Homo sapiens: one gene and its partner. The protein of the gene in region 2 purifies or fractionates together with the protein of the main gene of each other region. This does not show direct contact. Each region holds a gene or a part of one and is shown on either strand. Other genes may lie near its edges.

Region 1 (7,845 bases), on a different chromosome or scaffold from region 2:
GAATCGCTTGAACCGGGGAGGTGGAGGTTGCAGTGAGCCGAGATCGCGCCATTGCACTCCAGCCTGGGTGACAGAGCGAGACTCCATCTCGAAAAAACATCAGAAAACATGGAACTCTGTTGGCGTGGCTTAAACATGAGTGTGGTCAGTGTGGCAAAATCACTTGAATTGTACATTACAAATATGATTGAAGTTGTGGTCGAGCAATGTGGCTCACACCTGTAATCTCAGCACTTTGGGAGGCTAAGAAGGGAGGATTGCTTGAGCCCAGGAGTTAAAGATCAGGCTAGGCAACATAGCAAGATTCTCTTCTTTATTTTCTACAAAAAAAAAAAAAAAAGAAAGAAATCTGGGTGCTGTGGTGTGTGCCTGTAGTCCTAGCTACCTGGGCGGCTGAGGCAGGAGGATTGCTTGAGCGCAGGAGATCTAGGCTGCAGGGAGCTATGACTGTGCCACTGCACTCCACCCTAGATGACAGAGTGAGACCCAGGCTCCCCCCTCCCCCACAAAAAAGAAAGAAAAAATTTGCAAGTTTATATGTACAATTTCAACTACGTGTATAAAATTCTCTATAAGTGTGCATACTTAAAGGAGCCTCCACTGAAAGGCCGACAGAGTCTCTGTCTGTCATGATCTTGTCCTATTAGCAGTTTGTTTATTAGATGACTCAGATATCAGAAGGTCTGAGACACACGACAGGTAAATATGACAGTCCTAAGGGGAGAGGGCAGGGACAGGTGGCAAGTCTGGGACCAGGTGTGGGGCATGGACAAGCCAGTGGTCCGGGAGTGGGGTGTAGAGAAGACTGTGGTCAAGGTTATGAGGAGGCATGGGAGAGGGCCAGGAAATAACCAGGGACTTCCCTTCCTGCAAGGAGGTTCATGAACCAGCCCTGCACCCCACTTGTGGAACACAACATCGCCCCACAGTGAGGAGAGAGACCGAGGAGACCAAGGCTGATCCTGATTCAGACATCTTTCCACCAGGTCACCCCTCATCGATGATACATGCTCAGTCCGGGGGTATCCCCCGCAAGGAAACACTGGGGCTGAGGAGCCCAGAGAGGTCGCCTGACCTGGACTGGGGCTGGGGAGGTCAGGGAAGTCTCCCTGGAGAAGAGACAGGGTGCCAAATGCCAAAAGACCAGGAAGGGCACCAGGCGAAGATGAGGAGGGAACAGCATGAGCGGAGGCCAAGAGGCCAAGGTGGGAGCCCAGAGAGGGGTTAGGAGTGTGCAGGCAGAAGGGGCCACCTGGAGGAGTGGGAGCAAGGCCTTGAATGCAAAGTTCAATGACTTGTACTTTAGCTTCTGGGCAGTGAGGAACCATACAAAGTTCCACACAGAAGGTCAGGGTCAAGTAAGCGTTTGCCCAAGCTCTTTTCAGAGGTCACATGGAAGCTAGAATGGAATGGGGTAGGAGACAAAAGGAATGCAGGCATGATATCTGGAGGAACTGTGGACCAGAGCCTTTGCAGATATGTCTTCTCTTCAACCAAGGAGACGGACAGCTCCATGTCTTTATTCTACCAACACAGCATCCCCTCAGTGGCTCAGCAAGTGTGGGACACGCACTCACAGCAAGAAAAGCTGCATTAAGGTCTTCAGATTCTCTTTAACAGCAGGTTCTACTGGAGGCAGGTCCTTGGCCTTCAGGACAGCTGGGAGGGCCTCCTGGAAGAAGTCCTCCCGCACTGCAGCCTCCACGTGTTGGGCACCATGCTGCCACCGTGGGTCCGCTTTCAAAGACTCAGCAGCCAGCACTGATGGGCTAGGGGAAGACAGAGTCAGCGGAGGGGCTGGGCATAGCCAAGTGTAAGGCAGCATGACCTGCTTTAGGGGTTCTCTGATTGGATTTTCCCTCCTCCACCATGTGTGTGATGGGCTAGGATGTCCCCCTCCCTGGGGACACTTGGAAGCCTCTTAATATAGCTGCGGTGAGGGGTTTGTAAAGCCCCATTTTATAGATGAGGACACTGAGGCTCAGAAGGAGAAGTGACTCACACAGGGTCCCACAGCCAGAAAAGACAACATGAGCTGGGATGTCAGCTCCCTTCCCGGATACACCACTGCCCAGCGGGCCACCGCACCCCATGGCACTCTCATGCCTCAGCTCCGTGATTGCCACCAAGCCAGCCACAGAGATACGGGGCCCAGTAAGGAAGGCCTGGTCCCGCAGGAACTTGTCCTCGAGCAGCTGCAAGCATCCGTCCAGCTCAGCCAAAGTGGCCGCCAACATCTCGGGTGGCACTGACTCGCCCAGGAACACAGGGATTATTATCTGGTGGGCCGACAGGCAGAGAGAGGGGTCAGGGTCTGCCCAAAGCCCATCCTGGTTCCCACCATCATCCTATCATCACCAGTCCTTGGGATTTCTGCTCACCTCTGCTCACTTCTTTCCACTCATAGCCACCAGTAGCTCTCATCTCCTACTCAAACAGGGACAGCCTCCCCCTTCTCCCTGGGTCCTCACACAAGGCAACCAGTGGGATCCTTCTGTAATCTCAATCTGCCCGTACCCTCTCTTGCATAAAGCCTTCCATGGCTCCCCACTGCCCTCATGAGAAAGGCCTCAACACAAAGCCAGCCTTCTCCAGTGCGGTAGCCATCCCCTCCCCACTTTTCACCTCACCTCCTACTACCCCCCACTTATCAAACGGGAATGTGTGTATGAATCCTCCCTGGAATCTGGTTACAGTTTATGCTCCCAATCAGTAAGGTCAGAGTGGGGCCTGAGCCTCTGCATTTCCAACAAGCTCCCTGGTGATGCTGATACTCCCAGTCCATTGACCACACTTTGGATAGGAAGAGTCTACACTTGCTCTACTCAACTTCTCTCCATTCTGTCCTCAAACACACCACGCTTCCTTCCCCACCAGCTGGAGGGGGCTCTGCTCCCAGGCCCCAGAGGTCAAGGCAGACACAGTTAAGGTGTGGAAACCTCCTTATTGCCCGATGGATCCTCCAGAGAGGCGGTCCCTTACTTTCAGCAGGGCGCGTGTCTACCTGTTTCATGCTGTCTCACACACAGGGTGCCACCCCTGTGCTGGGCACTGGGTAAGTGCTCTGTACATATTAATTAGGAGTACTCATTTCAAAAATATGTGTGCCTTTGATAAATAAAAACAGTATGTGCATGTTGTGTTGGTGTGTGCTTCCTTGATTATTACTGAAGTTAAACATGTTTTCATCCATGTATTGACCATTTCTCTTTGTCCTTCAATGAAACCTCTGCTGATTTCCTTCGCTCATTTTTTTCCTGTGTCTTCGTCTGATGAGTTTCTCTTCTTTTTGTTTGTTCGTTTGTTTGTTTTGAGACAGTCTCGCTCAGTGGCCCGGCTGGAGTGCAGTGGTATGATCTCAGCTCACTGAAACCTCTGCCTCCAAGGTTCAAGTGATTCTCCTGTCTCAGCCTCCCGAGTGTGCCACCGCACCCAGCTAATTTTTGTATTTTTAGTAGAGACGGGGCTTCACCGTGTTGCCCAGGCTGGTCTCAAACTCCTGACCTCAACTGATCCGCCCATCTCTGCCTCCCAAAGTACAGGGATTACAGGCGTGAACCACCACACCCTACCTGTCTGATGGGTTTCTAAGAACATCTTAAAGGACATTACTTCCTTCTGACGTATCTTTTACCGAGATCCTTCCCAGTTTTTTGCTTAAGGTTAATCCATTTTTTCCTCCACAAAGTAACCTTGTATATGTATTGGTTTTTTCTTTGTTGAGTTCTCCCACTGTTCTGAGGCTTAGAAAGTCCTTTCATACCCAGACATCAGAGAAACAGATCCCGTGAGAGTAACTGGGATTGCAGGTGTGGGCCAGCATGCCCTGTTATCACTCCCTTTCTCTGAGTCAGCTTTTCTCTCTCAGTCTCGTCTACTCCTCGAACTCAGGAAATGTCACTACAGGTGGCCCCAGCTCCCGTTTACCTCCCCATAGGGAGCTCCTCTCTCCAGTTCCAGTTTCAAAACTCCCAAGGAAGCATTCTGGTTCACTCGCTTGGGCCACTGGCCAGAGGGATGGGATACTCTGAAAGATTCAGCTAGAGTCCCGGGCCCAGCCCTGGACCATCACTGTGCCCCCTGGTGAGATGCCAGGGCTGGGATTCAGGGAGAAGAAAGGAGGTTCCCGGACAGTCATTCCTGCCTCCCGCGGCTGCGGGCTCCCTGCCCCCATCCTGTGCACGAAGTGGGAGCTCCCGCTGTCTGGCAGCTCCCGCTGTCTGGCAGCAGCTGCTCTGCAGGGGACAGTCTGGACGGCAGAAAGTTCATCCTTAACCCCAGCCTTCCAGTCAAGGTTCCCACCAGTTTGGGACACCTGCAAGTGTCACATCCCACTGGGTGAAACTCTAAGATCCCTTTTAGGGGATCCCATTCGCTCCCTCCCTTCCGCCACCATGCAGCGCCGAGAAACAGAGCTCTGAACGAACCCTCAGATGTCCGTGCGCTGGGGCCTTTCCAGGACGGCGGCGCCCAGTCGTTTCTGGGTCAGGGCGACGCCTGGAACTGGGCAGGGTCCCTGGCACCGGGATCCCGAAAAGCAGACCTGCTTCTCCCTGTCCAGCCGGTTCCCCTTCCCCTTGCAGTCGGCCCCCTGCATCCGCGTCCTCCCTGCCAGTCGAGGGTCCCCAGCTCCAACTCCACCCTCCCAGCTGTGCGTTCATAGCGACCGCCCTCCCTGTAGGGACGCACGGATCTGGTGGTGGAGTCTTGGCCGGCAGGACTGGACAGGAACCGAAGGGGCGAGGCGGGTCCGGGGGTGGTGCGCTCCAATTGGGTGCTGTCCCCAGGGGGTGGGGCCTGATCCCCTATTTCCCGGCGCGCCGGGATCCTGCCACAGCTGCTGCCCACACCGCGCTCAGCGCCTTCACTGCCATCCCCGCTGTCCTTGCCGCCCCCGCCATGGGCCTAGAGCTGTTTCTTGACCTGGTGTCCCAGCCCAGCCGCGCCGTCTACATCTTCGCCAAGAAGAATGGCATCCCCTTAGAGCTGCGCACCGTGGATTTGGTCAAAGGTGGGCCCAGCCCGTTTCCCCGCGTGTCCACAAACCCAGTGCACCCCCAGGCCCCCGCCCTGCTCTGCCCTGAGCGTCTCGCCGCCCGCACAGCCCCCTCACCTCCTCCTGCAGCGTCTGCCACCAGAGAATGCTGTGGACTGAGTGGCCTTGGAGGGATCACAGCCTCTCTGAACCTTAGCTTGCCTTCTGAAAAGGAGGATAATGTTACCTTCTGCTCTGTAGGGATGGAAAGAAAATACTGAATGGAGTTGACAGAGTTCTTGCGTGGAATGCACGCATATAAATTCACAAAGCCCAGAAGACCTTGGGAAGAAGGACATGCTGTTGTGAGAATTAAGAGATGGGAAGAGATGAGCCACCCCAGTTTGCCTCCCCTCCCCTGGCCCACCAGAGTCCGGCTAGAAAACTTCTCTTTATCCACCTGCTGCACCTGGCCCCACCCACCAAAGCCCCCCAGCTGCCCCGGAATGTGGCAGGGCAGGGAGGCCCAGCCAGGGAGTGAGGCTGATCCAGGCCTCTAGTCCCAGACCTTGCTGTTTCTCAGGGCTGTGGGGCTCCGCTTGGGGAGGAGGAGGGAGGGTGTAGAGGTGCAGCGTTTTTATTCTGAAGACCTTTTCTGACTTCTTCCTCTTCAGGGCAGCACAAGAGCAAGGAGTTCTTGCAGATCAACAGCCTGGGGAAACTGCCGACGCTCAAGGATGGTGATTTCATCTTGACCGAAAGGTGCCCTCCTTCCCTCACCCCTCACCGCATCCGGAGCCCATGTGACCTTGGCTCTCCCCACTGGCCCCGGGCCCCAGTGGCCCTCCCATACCCCATGGGGCAGCGAGGGAGGGGAAAGGCGAGGGATCTGGCCGGGCGCGGTGGCTCACGCCTGTCATCCCGGCACTTCGGGAGGCCAAGGCGGGCGGATCACGAGGTCAGGAGACCGAGACCATCCTGGCTAACACCGTGAAACACCGTCTCTACTAAAAATGGAAAAAAAATTAACCGGGCGTGGTGGCGGGCGTCTGTAGTCCCAGCTACTCTGGAGGCTGAGGCAGGAGAATGGTGTGAACCCAGGAAGCGGAGCTTGCAGTGTGCTGAGATCGCGCCACTGCACTCCAGCCTGGGCGACAGAGCTAGACTCCGTCTCAAAAAGGCCGGGCGCGGTGGTTTACGCCTGTAATCCCAGCACTTTGGGAGGCCGAGGTGGGCGGATCACGAGGTCAGGAGATCGAGACCATCCTGGGTAACACGGTGAAACCCTGTCTCTACTAAAAATACAAAACATTAGCAGGGCGTGGTGGCGGCCGCCTGTAGTCCCAGCTACTGGGGAGGCTGAGGCAGGAGAATGGCGTGAACCCAGGAGGCGGAGCTTGCAATGAGCAGAGATAGCACCACTGCACTCCAGCCTGGGTGACAGAGGGAGCCCACTCCAGCCTGGGCGACAGAGGGAGACTCCGTCTCAAAAAAAAAGGAAAGAAAGAAAGGAGAGGTATCTGGGGAGAAGGTACAGCTTGGGGTGTGACCGGGATGAGCAGGGGCTGACAGAACATGTCCCCCCACCTCTCATCTTCCAGCCTTTTCTGAGCCGCAGGGCCTCTCCACTCCCAGACTGAAGGGTATTAGAAGAGAAGACAAGGGAACATTTTTCCACTGTTGCGCATTTGTTCAACAAATGCTAGCTGAAAAGAGCCTCTAGTGACTTGTTGCAGACTACCCAATCTACCCAGGCCGGGCCTAGAGGCCAATGCCATGGCCCAAGGGCACAGCTCATGGTGAGGTCCAGCTGCTGGGCAGGAAAAGGACAAGAGGTCAGGTGGCTGCAGAAGTGATGGCTGGGGGCCTGTCAGACGGGGGCCAAAGACATTCCTCCCCTCGTGATCCCTGACCCAAGCGCGTGGACATGCAAGGGACTCCACGGAGCATCCACTGTGTGCCAGCCCCATGCAGGGTTCCAGGGGTCCAGGGAGCCTATTCTGAGCTGCACCGCCTCGGACAAGTCACTTGACCATTCTGACCTTGAGTTTTCTCTTGTGCTAAAAGGCTAACAGGAGTGTCTACCTCACAGGGCGGCTGCTGGCATATCACAGAGATGAGGTTCTCAAAATGCAAAGCAGAAGGTCCAGCCAAGAGTCGGTGCCCAAGGCAACAAAGACAGGAGGAGACTCGTAGGAGGAGGGGGTGGTGTTGGGGAGCTGGAGATGGAGGGCGAGGCTGGAGGGCAGTCCTTCAAATGCAGAGAAGCCCCCGGGCCCCACTGGCAGATGGGAGCAGTTAGGGGTAAATGCCTGGTGCCAGTGTCCTTATAGCCACTGCCCATTTGTTCCCAGCTCGGCCATCCTGATTTACCTGAGCTGTAAGTACCAGACGCCGGACCACTGGTATCCATCTGACCTGCAGGCTCGTGCCCGTGTTCATGAGTACCTGGGCTGGCATGCCGACTGCATCCGTGGCACCTTTGGTATACCCCTGTGGGTCCAGGTGAGGAGAGCCATCTGGAGAGTGATTGGCCATCAGGGAGTAGTTGGCAGTAGGCCGGGGCCATAGACTGACCCACTCTCTGCCCCCATCAGGTGTTGGGGCCACTCATTGGGGTCCAGGTGCCCGAGGAGAAGGTGGAACGCAACAGGACTGCCATGGACCAGGCCCTGCAATGGCTGGAGGACAAGTTCCTGGGGGACAGGCCCTTCCTCGCTGGCCAGCAGGTGACACTGGCTGATCTCATGGCCCTGGAGGAGCTGATGCAGGTGTGAGCTCAGCCTGTGGGCAGTGTCCCTCTTCGTGTCACACCCATGAGGCAGACAGAAACACTGAGGCCTGGAGAAAGCCAGAACTTTGCCCAGAAT
Region 2 (7,019 bases):
ATACTTGTCAAAATACAACCTGAGGAAAGCAAGAGTGCCAGGGCATGGTGAAGGCTAGGAATAGTCTGCTGCAAAGCAGGGAAGCCATTTTTCCCTCACTGGCTATGGGGAACCCTATGTTAACAGTGACTGAGCTTTTTCCTTAGTTGATCTTGTGCAGCATCTAACCTGGATGTGAGCAAACCAGTGTAAGAAATGAAACTGTAAAGGGAAAAAAGTGGATACGAAGGGAGGCAGGCATACTTAACATGAAGAAAACCTGGTCATTTGGCACTCTTTCAGTTAGGTTCTTTCACTTGGCTGGAGGTCTGGTGTGCCATAGCAGTTCTGCAAGCCTGCCAGAGAAATCTAACGATGAGAGTACAGTACCTTCATTGTCTAAACTTCCTCCCAACTAGTTAAGTGAAACTAGCTAAATGAGCAGCGCTGGCTTATTCCTTCGGAGTCATATTTTTTAACATGTGAAATATAATTATTGTAAGAGTCCACTCTCTTAAGTTTCAGGATTTGTTGGAAGACTGGGAATAGAGGGTGGCCATTGCCAGACCTGTAACTTGTAGAGCTGTGAGCCCAGCCATCTCCTGGGGCACTTTCCCAGGCTCTCTCAGAATTTCTGGGAGAAGGAACTGCCAGCTTCACCCCTGCAGTGCCCCCATGTCTGCTGGGCCCTTGCAACTTGAGAACTGGAGTTGGGCACTAGAGACAGGGCTTCCAGGATGTGGGTCTTCCTCTGGCTTGGCCATCCCAGGTCAGTCAGCTCTGGCAATGGAGGGCTCCAGCTGATCTTTTGGCTGTGGAAGGATGACTGGGTAGGGTACCACAAGGCTGTCCCTAAGTTATTAGGTTGAACCATAGGAAATTGTCAATATTTGACCATTCTGTTCTTCGAAATAGTGATTTCATATGGTTCAGCTTAAATTTCTAATATGGGGAAAGAAAGGAAAGAAATGGAAGCCCAAATAATCTATTGCCTGCACTAGGAAGCAGAATATATTTTCCAGAACATTAGTCTCTGTAGGGAAAAGAGAGATCAGACTGTTACTGTGTCTATGTAGAAAGGAAGACATGAGAAATTCCATTTTGATCTGTTCTAAGAAAATTGCTTTGCCTTGAGATGCTGTTAATCTGTAACTTTAGCCCCAACCCTGTGCTTACAGAAACATGTGCTGTATGGAATCAAGGTTTAAGGGATCTAGGACTGTGCAGGACGTGCCTCATTAACAGTATGTTTACAGGCAGTATGCTTGGTAAAAGTCATCGCCATTCTCCATTCTCAATTAACCAGGGGCAAAATGCACTGTGGAAAGCCGCAGGGACCTCTGCCCAAGAAAGCCTGGGTATTGTCCAAGGTTTCCCCCCACTGAGACAGCCTGAGATATGGCCTCCCGGGAAGGGAAAGACCTGACCATCCCCCAGCCCGACACCCGCAAAGGGTCTGTGCTGAGGGGGATTAGTAAAAGAGGAAGGCCTCTTGTGGTTGAGATGAGGAAGGCCTCTGTCTCCTGCATGCCCCTGGGAACAGCATGTCTTGGTGTAAAACCCGATCCTATGTTCGTTCCATTCTGAGATAGGAGAAAACCACCCTGTGGCTGGAGCCAAGATACGCTGGCGGCAATGCTGCTGTTACTCTTTGCTACACTGAGATGTTTGGGTGGAGAGAAGCATAAATCTGGCCTACGTACACATCTGGGCATAGTACCTTCCCTTGAACTTATTTGTAACACAGATTCCTTTGCTCACAGATTTTCCTGCTGACCTTCTCCCCACTATCACCCTGTTCTCCTGCTGCATTCCCCTTGCCGAGATAGTGAAAACAGTAATCAATAAATACTGAGAGAGCTGAGACTGGGGCCGGTGCGGGTCCTCTGTATGCTGAGCACCGGTCCCCTGGGCCCAGGGTTCTTTCTTTATACTTTGTCTCTGTGCCTTATTTCTTTTCTCAGTCTCTCATCCCACCTGATGAGAAACACCCACAGGTGTGGAGGGGCTGGCCCCCTTCAACTCTCCGTTCATTTTTTAGTTTTGTTGAGGCTCTTTTACAGGTTGAATTGTGTCCTCCCAAAAAAGGTATGTTGTGGTCCTAATCTCCAATACCTCATAAGGTCACTTTATTTGGAAATACATTTTTTACAGAGGTAATCAAGTTAAAATGAGGTCATTCAGGTGGGTCCATTATGACTGGTTTCCTTATAAAAAGAGGAGACTTGGACACAGAGATAGATCTGCACAGAGGGAAGACACTGTGGAGACACACAGAGGGAATGCCATGTGAAGATGGAGGACTGGAATGATGCATCTAGAAGCCAAGGAACACCTGAGGCTCCCAGAAGCCAGGAGGGAGGCGTGGACAGCTCCTTCCCTAGCACTTTCAGGAGAATGGCCTTGGTCAACACCTTGATTTTGAACTTCTGGCCTCCAGAACTGAGAGACAATGAGTTTTTGTTGGTTTAAACAATCCAGTTTGTACTACTTTGCTACAGCAGCCCTAGGAAATGAACACAGGCTCCTTCCAGTGATGAAAACCTATGCTGTTGGTAAGAAACAACAGTACAGCCTGGGTTAAAAATGGCACAGTGGTTTAATCTCTAGAATCTCAGACAACAGATTTGAGGTATTCATTCCTATAGGATCTGGCTGTGCTTCCTACACTGACCAAAAAAGATTCATGTGTTCAGATACAACAAAGCTAGCTTTCTAACTTACTAACTTACAATGTATATGCATATGCACATGCCTGTGTGTTTCCCACCATGTATTTATTCTTCATGCTTGGTTTTCTAGCATTTTCAAGTTTGCAGTAAAAGGTTCAATACACATTTATTTCTCTAGTCTGCAGTGGAGCAGGTAACATATCCTAAGGAGACAAGAGTTTTTTTTTTTTGTTTGTTTGTTTGTTTGAGATGGGTTCTTGTTCTGTTGCCCAGGTTGGAGTGATGTGGCATGATCTTGGCTCACTGCAACCTCTTCCTCCTGGGTTCAAGCAATTCTCCTGCCTCAGCCTCCTGAGTAGCTGGGACTACAGGCGTACGCCACCATGCCTGGATAATTTTTTGTATTTTAGTAGAGACGGAGTTTCATCGTGTTGCCCAGACTGATCTTGAACTCCTGAGCTCAGGCAATCCGCCTGCCTCGGCCTCCTAAAGTGCTGGGATTATAGGTGTGAGCCACAGCGCCTGGCCCGAGAGTTGTCGATATGCTCGCAGGAAGTATTTCTGTGTTAAAAAGTTGAGAAGATGGAAACTGAATCCTCTTTGTATTCAGAAGGCTGTTTCGGAAGGTCACTGTTGGCAGGCTTCTCCCTACAGGGATTCAGCAGTGAGGGAGCAGAGTATTTGGGGGACAACTGCTTCTTCTGGAGGGGCGAGAATGAGATGGAGTTCACCAGCAGCTCTTTATGTCAGACTTTTAGCAGGATTCAGCTTTATAAATAAGCCTAAACAAACAAAATAACAGCAGATGATTATATGTCAACTGACTTCAATTTGATGGACTACTCTAAATAGAAAGACATATACAAAAGAAGGATTTGATTCACATTTGTAGCTTCAGTCTATCTGTCCACTCTCATTTTTCAGCCAAATTAAGAATCAGCTTTTGACTATCACAATACTGTATTACTTCTCCCTGGGTAACCAGGTCCTCACCACTTGGCCATTTCATGGTTCCTCACTACTTCCATTAGAAATGAAAAGAACTAAAATTACAAGTGAGCCATCTGGCACCTTTATGATATTGAAAGGTTTAGTGAGACAGGAAGTACAAACCACAGCCTGGAATGGAGTTCTTAAATTGACTGTGGATTTAAGTTATTATCTTCCACCTGCTCCTTAAATCCATCATTCCTGCAAATGCTTCATACTTAAGAGGAAAAATAAATTTCTTAAACAAGATACAAAAAAATTAGCCATAAAGGGAAAAATGTAATAAATGCAACTAAATTGACATTAAAAATTTCTGTTCATAAAGAAGATACCTTAAAGCAAATAAAAGACAACTTACACACTGTAAGGAGGTATGTGCAACTTATATATCCAACAAAAAATTGTTCTAATAGAAAATATATAAAGAACATCTATAAATCAGTAAGAAAATGAGAACAAATGGAAAAAAAGCTGAACAAACAAAAATTTCACAGAATGGGAAAAAATATGGTCAATAAACATATGAAGAGACACTCAACCACACAGGTAATCAGAGAAATGCAAATCAAGATCACACCGAGAAGTCATTTTATAGTCATTTGACTGGCAAAAATCATGAAGTCTGACTTCACTAATTGCTAGAGAAGATGGGAATCTAAAGAATCTCATATATTGCTGGTGGGAGTTTAATTTGGTACAGGCTTAGAAAACAATTTTGCATTCCTCTGTAAAGCTGAATACTCACAATACTCTACCACCCAGAAATTCTGTTCCTAAGTATATGCCAAGCTCTTGCCCATGCACACCACCAGGAGACATGAACAAGAATGTTTATAGCAGCCCCATTTGTAATAGTCAGAGGCCTGTCACTGGAAGAGAGACATTCATTGTGGGACAGTCACATATGGAGTATTACACAGTGGTACAAACAAGTGAACACAGCCAACAACATGGATGAACCTCAGTACTCCAGGGAAGTAACAGGTCATGTGTGTGACTTTCCTGAGACAGTCTACACACACATAAATATAGACATATTTTTCTTATTTATGGTATCACAATATTTCACCATTTTTTAATGGCACACACATACAATATAGTTCATAGGTGAGCTGTAGTTCTTTAACCAGTCTCCTATTGATGGATAGCTATGTTTGCTACGTTTTGCCATTTTTCTTGCTATTGCAAATAATGTTGCATGAGTGACACAATCACTGGAACCCGATAGCAATCTAACACATTATAATTTTGCAGTTATTATACCTGTGAGATAAAGTCCTGGAGGTGGGTCAAAGGGCATATCACTTTGTAAATTTTTTTTTTTTTTTTGAGACAGGGTCTGGCTCTGTCACCCAGGCTGGAGTGCAGAGGTGCGATCTCAGCTCACTGCAACCTCTGTCTCCTGGGTTCAAGGGAGCCTCCCATCTCAGCCTCCCAAGTAGCTGGGACTACAGGCGCACACTACCATGCCCCGCTAATTTTTTGTATTTTTTGTAGAGATGGGGTCTTGCCATGTTGCCAAGGCTGGTCTCGAACTCCTGGGCTCAAGTGATCCTCCCACCTTAGCCTACCAAAGTGCGGGGACTACAGGCATGAGCTTATGCATTGGGCTGTAATTTTGATAGCTGTTGGCAACTTGCCCTTTACTAGCAATGTATAAGAATATCTTTAACTTGTTCTTTGTATGACAGGGAATTAAGAATTTTTTGGCATGTATGGGTTATAATACCAGGGCAAAAAACCAAACCAAACCAAAACACCCCCCTGACCCCCACAAAACCCAAATCAACCAACCAACCAACCAACCAAAACTCCCAACCCAACCCAACTAAACCCCAAGAAAGAGATAAGACCAGCTTCTTACTTGTCGCCTCTGAGTATAGGGTCTTCTCATCAACACTCTGAACATTACAGGAAACAAAAAATTTCCTTCCTTCAACTTTATCAAGTTGGCTATTTATCATAACAACAGAACAAAGAGGGATAGGTCTGCAGAATAAAATGAAAAAGGAAAAAAATCAGTTTTTATCTGACTTATATAACATTAAAAGATGATCAAGTACATGACAAGGGATAGAAATTTATGACACCTGACAACAATGAGCACTGACTGCCTTAGACAATACATTCCTCAAGGACTCTGACACCAACAGCCTCTCAAGCTCCCCCTCTCCCAAGCACCACTGCTCTCAGGTGGCTCCTGGGCTACAGTCCCTGGATGTCTCTCTGGGCTTGTTTCAAAGGGATCATCAGGAATTCCAGCTCTGTGATGGCAGAGACTATCCCATCTGGAGATCCACTGCAAAGTCCTAAGGGAGCTGAAATGCTTTAAAGAAGTGAAAATAGGGCCAACAGATGGTCCCAGGCAGCTTCTCTCATTTCTTCTGTCATAATCAACATTTCTCATTCAATTCTGAGTAATGGTCACTAGAAAGACACCTAATAACAACAAATTGCTGATAACAGCTTACTGCTCTAAGTCAGTACTGTCCAATAGAACTTTCTGTGATGATACAAATGTTCCATATCTGAGCTGTCCAACCTGGTAGCCACATGTGCCTAATGAGCACTTGAAATGTGGCTAGCATAACTGAGAAGTTGAGTCCTTAAATTTATTTAATTTGAATTAATTTATACTTAACTTTAAATAGCTACATGTGACTAGTGGCTACAGACGTTTCTGGGAATCCTGGAGAAACATATCACAATGAAAGGATATCTCTTTAAAAGTGAAATTTCAGTTGGTTGAAACAGAAGGTAGAGCACGGAAACGTGTTTCGTGCTCCTATGGTACTACCAAGCAGATGATGGAACTACCCCAGGTAGAAAGGAAGTTATCACTGTGATGATCTCTCTGCCCAGTTTTCCTTTCAATGAACTTTTAATACTTCCACTCCCATTAGCTTTTCCTTTGCTCTTTTGTTGAGTCAATTCAACATTTACTAAGACCCAGGGGACATTAGGTGTTCTCGCCTGCCCAGCAACTCCCTTTTCTACTAACATGACTCTCTTCATTTATCCATCCCCTACCCTCCCTTCATTCTCTTCATATCTCTCTCTTTGATATACTCATGTACCCCTTTTGTCAGGGAACCACCTCTCCCTCATTCTTAGCCCATGTAGGTTGACTGGCATTGAATAATGATCCCTCCACTCCACACACACATAGTGACCAGTTGTGGGGGTGGGCACAGGCTGAAATAGTCAATCCTGGAACTTGTGCTGTAGCCCTTGGGGCTGGGTTCTTTTTCTCTGAGGCGCTAGGCTTACAAGACATAAGCCTGGCTGGCCTGGCTGGTGGCCATTGTGCCACTACACTGGGAAAGGCTACGTAAGGATGAAGCAGATCTAGAAGAAAATGTGGCTGAGATTCCTAAT

What was found. The genes of interacting proteins can lie anywhere in the genome.
Region 1: the proteins of THEM4 (region 2) and GSTT2B purify together in Homo sapiens (affinity purification with mass spectrometry, with the first as the bait; 2 studies listed by BioGRID). This does not show direct contact.

What each region holds. Positions count from the first base shown.
Region 1 is NC_000022.11:23,958,186-23,966,030, reverse strand, and holds the start of GSTT2B (glutathione S-transferase theta-2B), read left to right. Parts: upstream 1-4,835; 5' UTR 4,836-4,899; coding exon 4,900-5,011; intron 5,012-5,649; coding exon 5,650-5,737; intron 5,738-7,329; coding exon 7,330-7,480; intron 7,481-7,572; coding exon 7,573-7,746; intron 7,747-7,845. UniProt on the Homo sapiens protein: Conjugation of reduced glutathione to a wide number of exogenous and endogenous hydrophobic electrophiles. Has a sulfatase activity.
Region 2 is NC_000001.11:151,871,496-151,878,514, forward strand, and holds part of THEM4 (acyl-coenzyme A thioesterase THEM4), read right to left. Parts: intron 5,631-7,019; coding exon 5,506-5,630; intron 3,434-5,505; coding exon 3,393-3,433; 3' UTR 1-3,392. UniProt on the Homo sapiens protein: Has acyl-CoA thioesterase activity towards medium and long-chain (C14 to C18) fatty acyl-CoA substrates, and probably plays a role in mitochondrial fatty acid metabolism. Plays a role in the apoptotic process, possibly via its regulation of AKT1 activity.